Linked DNA regions of Homo sapiens: region 2 is linked to region 1. The links come from fine-mapping of genetic effects on gene expression. A gene starts in region 1. The other region holds a variant in brackets. All regions are shown on one strand. Distances are from middle to middle. Region 1 holds the start of SRP72 (signal recognition particle 72). Region 2 overlaps SRP72 (signal recognition particle 72).

Region 1 (5,532 bases):
TAAAAAAAAAAAAAAAAACTCTCTAAGGCTGAAAAAAACAGAAGTTACTAGTATTCCTTCCAGTTCAGAAACATTATTGACAAGCAAAAGGGGGGAAAAAAAGGAAGGAAAAAAACGTTAAAAAAAATCAGCAAATAGTTGGGAAAAAACATGGAAGAGATTATAGCTATAGTAAGTGTTTCTAATAACTGTACAAGCAACTAACTGAATCACTTACTTGGCTAACACTTTGGTGTGAGTATTGATGACATTCAAAGCTTCCTTGAAACTTCCATTCTGGATAAGGCATACCACTTTACAATGCAGGGCAGTTACGTCATCTTTGTTGATCTGTAGTACTAGAGAACAATTTTAGGAAAAGTCATTTTTAAATCCATTTCCTTTTCACATTTTTACTAAATTTTCCCACCCTGTCTCTCCGAAAGCTAAATTTCTACTTTTATTGCAACAGAAATAATTGGTCAGAACAACTGGAAGAAACAGCAACAAAACAAAACAAACCCAGAAAACAACTAATCTTTGCTTTTAACTTAAGAAGTGACAATAAGGAGAGTTATAGATTAAATTTTCAATGAGATAAAGATTCCCAATATACATGTACCAAAAAAGTGCAGTGAAATAAAGAAGAAAGAAGCAATTTCTCCAGATATTTCATCTTGAAATGCATGCTACATTCTACATAGTTCATTACTTCACAGGGAAAAAGTTCAGGTAGAATTTGGAAGCAAATGACCTAGGTTTGGTGCAAGCTTGCCACTAAATGCTTTGAGGTATTGGGCATATCACTTAACAGCCAAATCTCAGTTTTCTTAGCTACAAAATGATTAGAAAAGCATTACCTATTTAATAAGGTTACTGACAATATGAAATGAATATTTTGGAAAAATCTTATAAAGTATAATACAAAGGCAATTTATCTTGCTGGCAACGTTTCCAAAAATCATTAAAATTTCCCCTTTTCAACTAAGATGACCAAAGTATAAGGAAGAACTCAGGTGGCAAGTTTCAACGCTAACAACTGTTCGGTGTTAAAATGACCAGGATCATAGTTACTCTTGCTCCTGTGCAACTACAGAAGTCCAATTCTCAAAGAATCACAAGAATTTCTACCAATTAAGAAAACATACTGGTAAACAAGTTGACAATCTTTGCTGATTAAAGAATTCCTGCAAAATACTATACTAAGTATACAGTACTGGTTGGAAGGCTAGAGTTAATTCAAACAAATTTAGGGATCAAATAATTCTAATTCGTAGCTATTTTCCTCAATGTCTGAAATCACCAAAAGTGCACTGTGGGCACAATCACTACTTTTCACGTTAACCCAGTACTAGAGTGTTGAAAATTACTTAGATAGCTTTGCATGTTACTGACACACCTTTTAGGTTACTGCTACTCTGAACAGCTAAGCCCTGCCTTGGTAATTACATTTCCAAATCTAACATGCACAGGCTGTATCTTCAGTAGAGAAGAACTGCGCACCACCGAGAACATTAAGCAGCATGGCCATATTCCAGGTATGTAGTAAGGAACAAAAGAATATGATGAATTAAACCTCACACCAAAGGCGGTAAAAACCGAAATCATCCCTTACAGGGCAAAAAAACAGGCCAAACTTTTCTTCCGACATTATTTCAAGTGTTGGTGCTTCCACACACATATTTCCTAACTTAATAACACTGAAGAGATCTCATCTATGGGAATGACAGGCCTGACATCCAGATCCAGCCCTTTCCTCTCGCCCCGTAGAACCCGTACAGCTTCCACCTGGTTAGCACCAGCCTCTAAACTACGTGTCCCAAGCAGGTTCCTCCCCCTTTAGCGGCCAAAGAGAACAAGCTCCCTCAGCAATAGAGTCCTGATCACTGCGCTCAAGACGAAGAAGAAAAGGAGGCACTTTGGAATATTTGTGAAATAAAGCAGCAAAGGAGTCAAATAAGAAAACAGTTTGAAATGGACTCCGGGAGCTGCGGTCTCTTTAAAACCTTCCCTCGCTTCCCGCGGAGGGTAAAAAGAGAAGTACACGTGGCTGTAAGCAACCAGGGACCCCAGGCTGGCCTGGTGAAGCCGAGGAGTGAGACCTGCGTCTTCCGGGCGCTAGGGCCCGAGCCGGGCGGACAATAGACGGGGGGGTTTCGGGGGTCTCCCCTTCCCGTGCCTCCCGCGCGAGGTGGTCTCGCGCGCCGGAAACAGGCCGCATCCTCCAGCCGGCCTGGGCCCGCCCCAGTGCCCACCCCGACACTTACTCTTATTGACGGTCTTGAGAGCGCGCGTGAAGTCGCCGTTCTGGCCATACCGGTTCACTTCACTCCACAGCGCAGGTACTGACACCCCCCCGCTGCCGCCGCTCGCCATCTTGGAGGAGACGAGGGGCGGGGCGGGGAGACCTCTGCCCCGGAACAGGATCTCCGAGGCAGCCAAGAGGAGGAGGAAGTCGATGATTGCTAAGCGTCGCCGAGTTGGGAGTGTCTTCAGCCCTAAGGCAGCATCAGAGATCATAATCTTCTGCTCTCGTGGCAAGAAATTTGTGCGGATAGAGTTGATACACCTCACTTGAAGTTGGCCTGGAGAAAAGAGGCGTCGGACTCCTGGACGGGGTTGGGAAACGGTCACCAGTTTCGGCTCAAAGCAGCCTGTTTCCAGGAGACCGCCATGGTCGAGGCAGCGTCCTGGTCCCACGGTGCGGGGCCGGACGATCATTTATGGGATATAAATAAAAGGACTATGAGGTGGTAAATAAAAGACTACCAACTAGAAGCCATAGGGAGTCATTTGAAGGAGAAATAGGCACGGCTCATCTGTGGTTGAGGGAAAGGGATCTTGAAAGATGATTAGGAGAACTTGGGTTCTGGGGAAAGTGCGGGAAGACATTCTGGCAGAGAAGCAAACGTGAGGAAAGGTAAGAAGGCAAGAATCTCCCATTACAAAGGGTTTGGTGAAACCCTTTGCCTGTCCTTTTCGCTCCCTTCGGGAGCAGTCGGCAATAAGCTGGAAGGGTAATGGGGTGAAAATGCCCGTGGTCAGTTCCCTGGCTCTGCGACTCACTAGATGTCTGACAATAAACAAGTTACTTAGCTTCTGGGAGTCTGTTTTCCCGATTGTGAAATGGGGATACTATATTTGTTCTAGAGATATAAAATATTAGGGTTTGCTTGCGACCGTTAATATCAAGATGTGTTCAGATGTACGAAGGGAATGGATATCTGTTGGGTACACTTGATGTGAGTGATTTTTTTTTTTTTTTGAGACGGGGATCTTGCCGTGTTGCCCAAGCTGGTCTGGAACTCCTGGGCTCAAGCAATCCTCCCACCACAGCCTCCCCAAGTGCTGGGATTACAGGCATGAGCCACCACACCAAGACGATGTGAGTGATTCACTTGATGTGAATGTTGTATTTCATTGAATGGCCTGCTCTTCAGACTCATATCTCGTCATGACCTTTACAACTTCTACTACTTCCTGTGTCCCTCAGGAACCTAGCTTTTTTTTTTTTTTTTTTTTTTTTTTTTTGAGACGTAGTCTAGCTCTGTGACCCAGGATGAACCTCACTGCAATCTCCACCTCCTGGGTTAAAGCGATTCTTTTGCCTCAGCCTCCCAAGTAGCATGAGCCACCACGCCCGGTTAATTTTTGAATTTTTAGTAGAGATGGGGTTTCACTGTGTTGGCCAAGCTGGTCTCAAACTCCTGACCTCAAGTGATCCGCCCTCTCTCAGCCTCCCAAAGTACAGGGATTACAGGCGTAAGCCACCGTGCCCGGCCTTGCTAACTACTTTTTGTCTTTCAGTCTTTCTGGTTATACGTTGAAAGTTACTTTGAGGAAACATTTGATCTTGCAGACTGGGCAGCCTTCTGGTTGCATCCTCTTAGAACAGGGGTCCCCAACCCTTGTACTGGTCTGCAGCCTGTTAGGAACCGGGCGGCACAGCAGTAGGTGATCGGTGGGCCAGTGAGCAGTACCGCCTGAGCTCCTGTCAGATCAGCTGTGATATTAGCTTCTCACAGCTCAAACCCTATTGTGAACTGGGAATGTGAAGGATCTAGGTTGCTCACTCCTTAAGAGAATCTAATGGGAAATGTAATGAGCTTGAATCATACTGAAACCAGCTGTCCAACTCCTGTGGAAAGATTGTCTTCCCTGAAACCGGTCCCTGGTGCCAAAAAGGTTGGGAGACTCCCTATAGGACTCCACTTCTGAGCACTGATAATTAAGGGTTATCTCACTCTGTATGGACTATAGTTCTGAGGCCAAGGAACCATATTTACCTTGCTCACTGCAGTATCCCTAGGATCTAGCATACTGCCTGGCACATAGTTGGCATTTTTTGTTTCACATTCCTTGCCTAATCTTGAGTTCCTTGAGGGCAGAAACTGCCCAGCTCCTGATATGGCATATGGTGCCCTGCCATATTTTTGTCTGGTCCTTCCAGTATATACAATGCAAAGAGCATGAAAGGTGGCTTGAACTCTAGGTGCTGGAGGGTGTAATTCTTGTGAATTAGTAAAAATCATGAGAAGAGCTTTAGACTTTTACTGACTAGAATTGTCACAGGTTTCAAGCCAGTTATGTTTAGATTTCAGGGGGTGGGGGCTCCAGATGACATGGTATACCCAAAATGTTGTGTGAGAAAATTGGGTATACCCAAAATTTTGTTGTATTTTGTTATTCTGAGAAAATGTAGATTCCACTGTATTCTCCAAAGGTGTTTATATCCACCATCCCCTCCCAAAAGTTAAGAGCCACTGTCCTAGTAGTACTTTTTAGAACATTGACTTTATATAAGAATTGGCAATTTTCGTTTCTATATCATTCTAATCCTATATACTTTGTAGCTTTTAGAAATGCTCAGAATTCTGCTGCTGTGGACTTGTTTCTATTTCTTATGTCATTTTAATGGAGTTTTGTGGCAAACAGCCTATAAATATGGGGCTTAACCTGCCATTTTTGAAACAGGAATCTTCCAAACCATAGTGGTGTTTTGTTTTTTTTTTTTTAAATAACAAATTTACATCTCACATTGTGAAGGATGGAAAGATTGTCTGGTGAGGGGCCACTCTGATTCATAGATGGCATCTTCTGTTTTCACATGGTGGGAAAAAAACCAGACTGATCTCTTAAAGCATGTATCTGATGCCACTTTCCTACCCTCACGATAAAATCCGAACTCCAAAGAAGAGCAGTAAGAGCTTTTGTGATCTGGCCTCTGCTTGCCACCTCCCCAACTCACATAGGTCTCTATACTTATTTCCTAGCCCCCTTGCATGCTATTCACCTCTAACTTCCATGTAGTTATGTGTCCCCCTACCTCCTGGAATTTGCATTTTTATTCATCTGACAAGTGTTTGTCTTGTATATGCCAGTGCCGTGTATTACACCAGTTGCTGTGATACAGCTGACAACAAAGAAGACAGCCCAGTGTAATACATTTATTTTCTAGTTGGGAGAGATGGGTAATAAATAAACATGTACTATGTTTGGTGGTAATAAGTTTGCTGAAGAAAATTATGGAAAGGTAAGAGAGATTGAGTATAG
Region 2 (5,000 bases), 27 kb before region 1:
AAAGTAAAATTTTAGGTTATTACCACCTACAGTCATCAGCTGTTTCCTTGCAGTATTACTAATGCACAAAACAAATATTAAATGTTTGCCAATTTTCAAGTACTGTGACAAAAGAACCAATAAGACTTCCAGTTAAAGATAGTGAAATGGATACAAACATTAGCTTGTGTACCTTCCTCAAACTCCACTAAAATGGTAATAAAACACATTAAAGGAAGACAGAAGAAAAGATATTGTCAATAAAATTTTGGTAGCTGGAAAACAGATGGAGGAGTAATAATAAACTGAGCTAAGCCTTGGGAAACCTGTATCCTAAGACGGCAGAGAGCAAAATCAAGAAATAACCTGATTTATATGATAGATTCCTCAAAACCTCAGGAACTTGGGTGGCTCCAAGGATAACATCTGACTAGGTAAAATCAAGCACGGTAATGCCACCCAATTTTTCCAGAGATTAAAGCCACACTCCAAGCCAATCAATGCACATTATTTCCCTGGTTAATAATTCAAGGCTGGACACTGACCTGCTTGGCCCAATCAGATTAATGAGAAATACTTGCCAAGTCTGGAGAGGGCTTCTTTGTTGTGATGGATATAAATGACAAGTATGTGGCCCTGACTGTTTACAATATACATCATATGACTCTAATGGGATTCTGTTTTGTGGAGAGCAGAACAAAGAGGTAAAAATACTGAGTCAACCAACCTTGATGCTAACATTCCTCTAGACTGCCAACTTTATAAACAGTAAATTTTCTTAAGCTAGTTTGATGGAATTTTGTAGTTATGTGTAGCAGAAACATCAAAATGTGTAAGTGCTTACTTTTGTGCCAGGCACCACTCTAAGAACTTTACATGTAGTATCTAATACTACAAGATATATACTATCATATTCCATTTTACATATGAAAAACTCTGGCAGGTATATTAAATAGCCTGTCCACAGTCACAGAGTAAAAGAGGGAGCAACGATTTGAATTTAGGCAAACTAGTGAATTGCGATCTTTAAAGTAATAGAATAAAATTAAATGTTAGCTATAGTCAAGATAAAAAGTTTTCAAAGATACAAGGGAGGGCAGTATATTTATGTCCAAATATTTCTATATAGGGCTAAAATCAAACATTTATTTTGGAGAAAATTTATAAAGACTTTTTTAATGCCTTACCCTTCTTTTTCTTTTTCTTCTTTTTCAAATCTCCCTGTCTACAAAGAGAAAAAAAAATCATTACCATCTTTGTGATAAAATATTTATAGAGCATTAAGTAAGTGCTCTATAAGAGTTAGTTGGGCACTTATCATAAACATGGTTTAAGACTTGGTATCAGCTTACCAAAGCTAACAAATTAGTTAAGATTTGATTCAGGTTAAAGTCAATTAAGCTTCAGATACTATAATTTTTGGAAAGTAGTTTAGAAAACAGAGGTGACAATTCGAAAACAGATTCTGTTTACACTGAAAAAAGTTTTTCAGTGGCACACATTAAGTCTATGTAAAAAGTAATTTGCACAAGCATGACTACCTAGAATCCCTTGGTAAGTTACTCTATGTTTGGCAAGACTTTAGAGAATAAATTTTTTGCCAGAAGAACATGTGTAGGTAAGATACATGCAAAGAATATCTCTGGAAGGAGATTCAAAACAAGTTACGTTGGTTATGGCCCTGGGAGGGAGGTGGGTAGACACGGATGGAAGACTTTTTACTTACTCTTACACTTTTTTATCTTTTGTATTTTAAACCTGTGAGTTTATTAATTTTTTTATGTAAGTAAAATCTATATTAAGTACATTGACCAAAAAAGGCACTAAAAAGGGCATAAAAATTAACACTTCAAAATAATTGTCAAGCATTCTGAAAGTGGCTGGGAACAGTGGCTCACGTCTGTAATCCCAGCACGATGGGAGGCCAAGGCAGGTGGATCACCTGAGGTCAGGAGTTCCAGACCAGCCTGGACAACATAGTAAAACCCCGTCTCTACTAAAAATACAAAAATTAGTTGGGTGTGGCAGTGCGTGCCTGTAATCTCAGCTACTTGGGAGGCTGAGGCAGGAGAATCACTTGAACCAGGGAGGCAGAGGCTGCAGTGAGCGAGA[T/C]TGCGCCACTGCACTCCAGCCTGAGCGATGGAGCAAGACTCCGTCTCAAAAAAAAAAAAAAAGCATTCTGAAAGCTCTAGTGAAAAGAGAAAAACATAAAAATACATCTCTCTATATATTCTTATGTGATATAACTCGAGAAATATGAAACAGTGAACTAAAAAGATGAGACAACAATTCCTACCAAAAATTCATTCTACAAGTCATTCAATTGTGAACGTTCTCTCAGGATACCCCAAATAAGAAATGCAACATACTGTATCTTACTTGAGTGTTTCATCTCTTACCCAGTGTGCAATAGTATTCTAAATTGTCTCCCTACAAATTATACTCCACAGCCATACTAAAATTTCCCAAGGGTTCTCTGCTATTTCTTATTTCTCTGCCTTAGCTCACCCTTTGCCTACCTCGTCCTCATCTTCCTCAGAGTCAACACAATCATCTTCTCCATGAAGCCTTTCCTAACTTCCCACTGTCCTCAGGAAGAAGTGACTATTCCCTCCGGTGTACTCCTCTATGCCCTGTACAATCACAACAGGTGCAATCTTTATTGCAATTACTGTTTAAATATATTTCCTTCTGCTAGATTCAAGTTCCTTTTTTTTAGACAGAGTCTCATTCGGTCACCCAGGCTGGAGTGCAGTGGTGAGATCTTGGCTCACTGCAACCTCCACCTCCTGGGTTCAAGTGATTCTCCTGCCTCAGCCTCCCAAATAGCTGGGATTATAGACATGTGTCACTACGCCCGGCTAATTTTTGTATTTTTAGTAGAGATGGGGGTTTCACCATGTTGTCCAGGCTGGTTTCGAACTCCTGACCTCAAGTAATCCGCCTGCCTTGGCCTCCCAAAGTGCTGGGATTACAGGCATGAGCCACCACCATGTCAGGGCTCAAGTTCTTTTGAGAGCAAGTACCATGATTTATTTTCTGGTCAACACCTAGCATAAACCTATCACATAGTGTATTGTTAAAGGAAACTAAACCTTTGCATCCAAGTTAGTATAACAAAATACTAACTTCTAATAAGATAAAATAAAGAGCATTAATAATGCATAATGAAAATACTGTGCTGAAACTTAAAAGCTTAAAAAGTCAATGTATATCTTAATGATTGTCTAAGAAAAAAGAGAAAGAAGCCAGGCTTGGTGGCTCATGCCTGTAATCCCAGCACTTTGGGAGGCTGAGGCGGGTGGATCACCTGAGGTCAGGAGTTCAAGACCAGCCTGATCGACATGGTGAAACCCTGTCTACTAAAAATACAAAAATTAGCCAGGCGTGATGGCAGGCACCTGTAGTCCCAGCTACTCAGGAGGCTGAGGCAGGAGAATTGCTTGAACCCAGGAGGCGGAGGTTGCAGTGAGCTGAGATTGAGTCACTGCACTCCAGCCTGGGCAACAGAGCAAGACTCCGTCTCAAAAAAGAAAACAAACAAACAAAAGAAACAAAGATTATTTAAAAAAACTTTTAAAAACTTATTATTTTTAGAGATGGGGGTCTTGCTCTGTCACTCAGGCTGGGGTGCAGTGATGCAATCACTGCTCACTGGAGCCTCAAACTCCTGGGCTCAGGCAATCATCCCGCCTCAGCCTCCCAGTAACTGGAACACAGAGCCACTATGCCAGGCTAAAGAAGGAACTGCGTGTCCTTAGTAGTTACTCAACCCTGTTTGGGGAAGAAAAAAATAGTAAACATACTTTAATTGAAAATCCATTTAAGAACCCAGACTGAATTTATAATTGTAAGATGAAATGGAATTCGGAACAATGTAACCTCTTTGAGACTCCAATTCCTTATTAAAAGTTTTGGAAGTTATTATGAGAACAACAATGCTTTTTATGAAATGCAGAGTTTGTTAGAAAGAAATCAGTCATTGTTGCTGAGTTTTTTTTAAGTTAGGGAAAAATTTAGATTTCAAAAGGCATTCAAAAAAGGAGGAAGTAGCAAAAACTTATAAAAGTCACAAAGCTAAGGAAATGTTTTATCTTTTCCATGCTCTATTCATCCTGAGTCAAAAGTAAAATCTTAAAACATTTTACTGTAGGTCTCTGCTAACTATATTTTTAAGATGACGATGGAAGAAACAAGTCAAAATCTGACTTCTTTTAAGTAGATGAAGCCGACTAACCTTTTCTTCAAATCAGCAAAAGAAATCATATACTAAATGATGTACTAAATGTACAACAATAACTAAAAGGTAAAGGAAGGCACATCCAGCCTATGGAGTGTTATGCATAAAAAGGATGAAATAGGTCCACATTTTAGTACGTGGAAAGATCTCTAAAACTCATTAAATAAAAGTAAGTTGGGAAACACTAAGTACAATACAATCCTCCTTCTGTAAAAAATAACTGGGCGTGGTGCCCAGCACTTTGGGAGGCCGAGGTGGGCAGATCACTTGAGGTCAGGAGTTCAAGACGAACCTGGTCAAAAGGGTGAAACCCTGTCTCTACTAAATGCACAAAAATTAGCCTGTAGTCCCAGCTACTCGGGAGGCTGAGGCAGAATTGCTTGAACCCGGGAGGCGGAGGCTGCACTGAGCCAAGACTGTGCCACTGTACTCCAGCCTGGGAGACAGAGCAAGACTCTGTCTCAACAAACAAACAAATAAAAAAAAAATAGTAATAAATAAACCAATTTAAAGAAAATATTTGTAAACCATCTGTGTGTGTAAACACAAAGAAAAACTTCTGGAATAATAGATTAAATTAATACCAGAGGTTAATTTTGGGCTGAGGGAAAAGGGAAGGAAATAAGGACAAAGAGCTGGGCACAGTGAGAGAAATGGAAAAGGAACAAAGAGAACTAGAACTTTATTCACATGAAATTTCTATGAGAATGTATTTTTTATTCCTTGTCTAATTTAAAATCAGCATTAGAGAACGTTACAATGAAAAATATTACCCTTGTTC

Evidence for each region. PIP is the estimated chance that this variant, and not a neighbour inherited with it, causes the effect.
Region 2: its variant is the best candidate, but not a certain one, in a credible set for the expression of SRP72 in whole blood (TOPMed, PIP 0.74).

Annotation. Positions count from the first base shown.
Region 1 is chr4:56,464,459-56,469,990 of GRCh38, reverse strand. SRP72 (signal recognition particle 72) reads right to left here and starts at 2,374. Exons shown (of 19, transcript NM_006947.4): 1 at 2,247-2,374; 2 at 218-338. The coding sequence starts at 2,355. LOC124900706 (a long non-coding RNA gene) reads left to right here and starts at 2,433. Exons shown (of 2, transcript XR_007058126.1): 1 at 2,433-2,899. PAICS (phosphoribosylaminoimidazole carboxylase and phosphoribosylaminoimidazolesuccinocarboxamide synthase) reads right to left here. Exons shown (of 9, transcript NM_001079524.2): 9 at 5,413-5,532. RefSeq lists an enhancer at 2,320-2,529.
Region 2 is chr4:56,491,561-56,496,560 of GRCh38, reverse strand. SRP72 (signal recognition particle 72) reads right to left here. Exons shown (of 19, transcript NM_006947.4): 16 at 4,993-5,000; 17 at 1,167-1,204. Among named protein-coding and RNA genes, the nearest start is that of ARL9, 12 kb to the left of the region's middle. The variant T/C (reference allele first, on the strand shown) is at 2,092.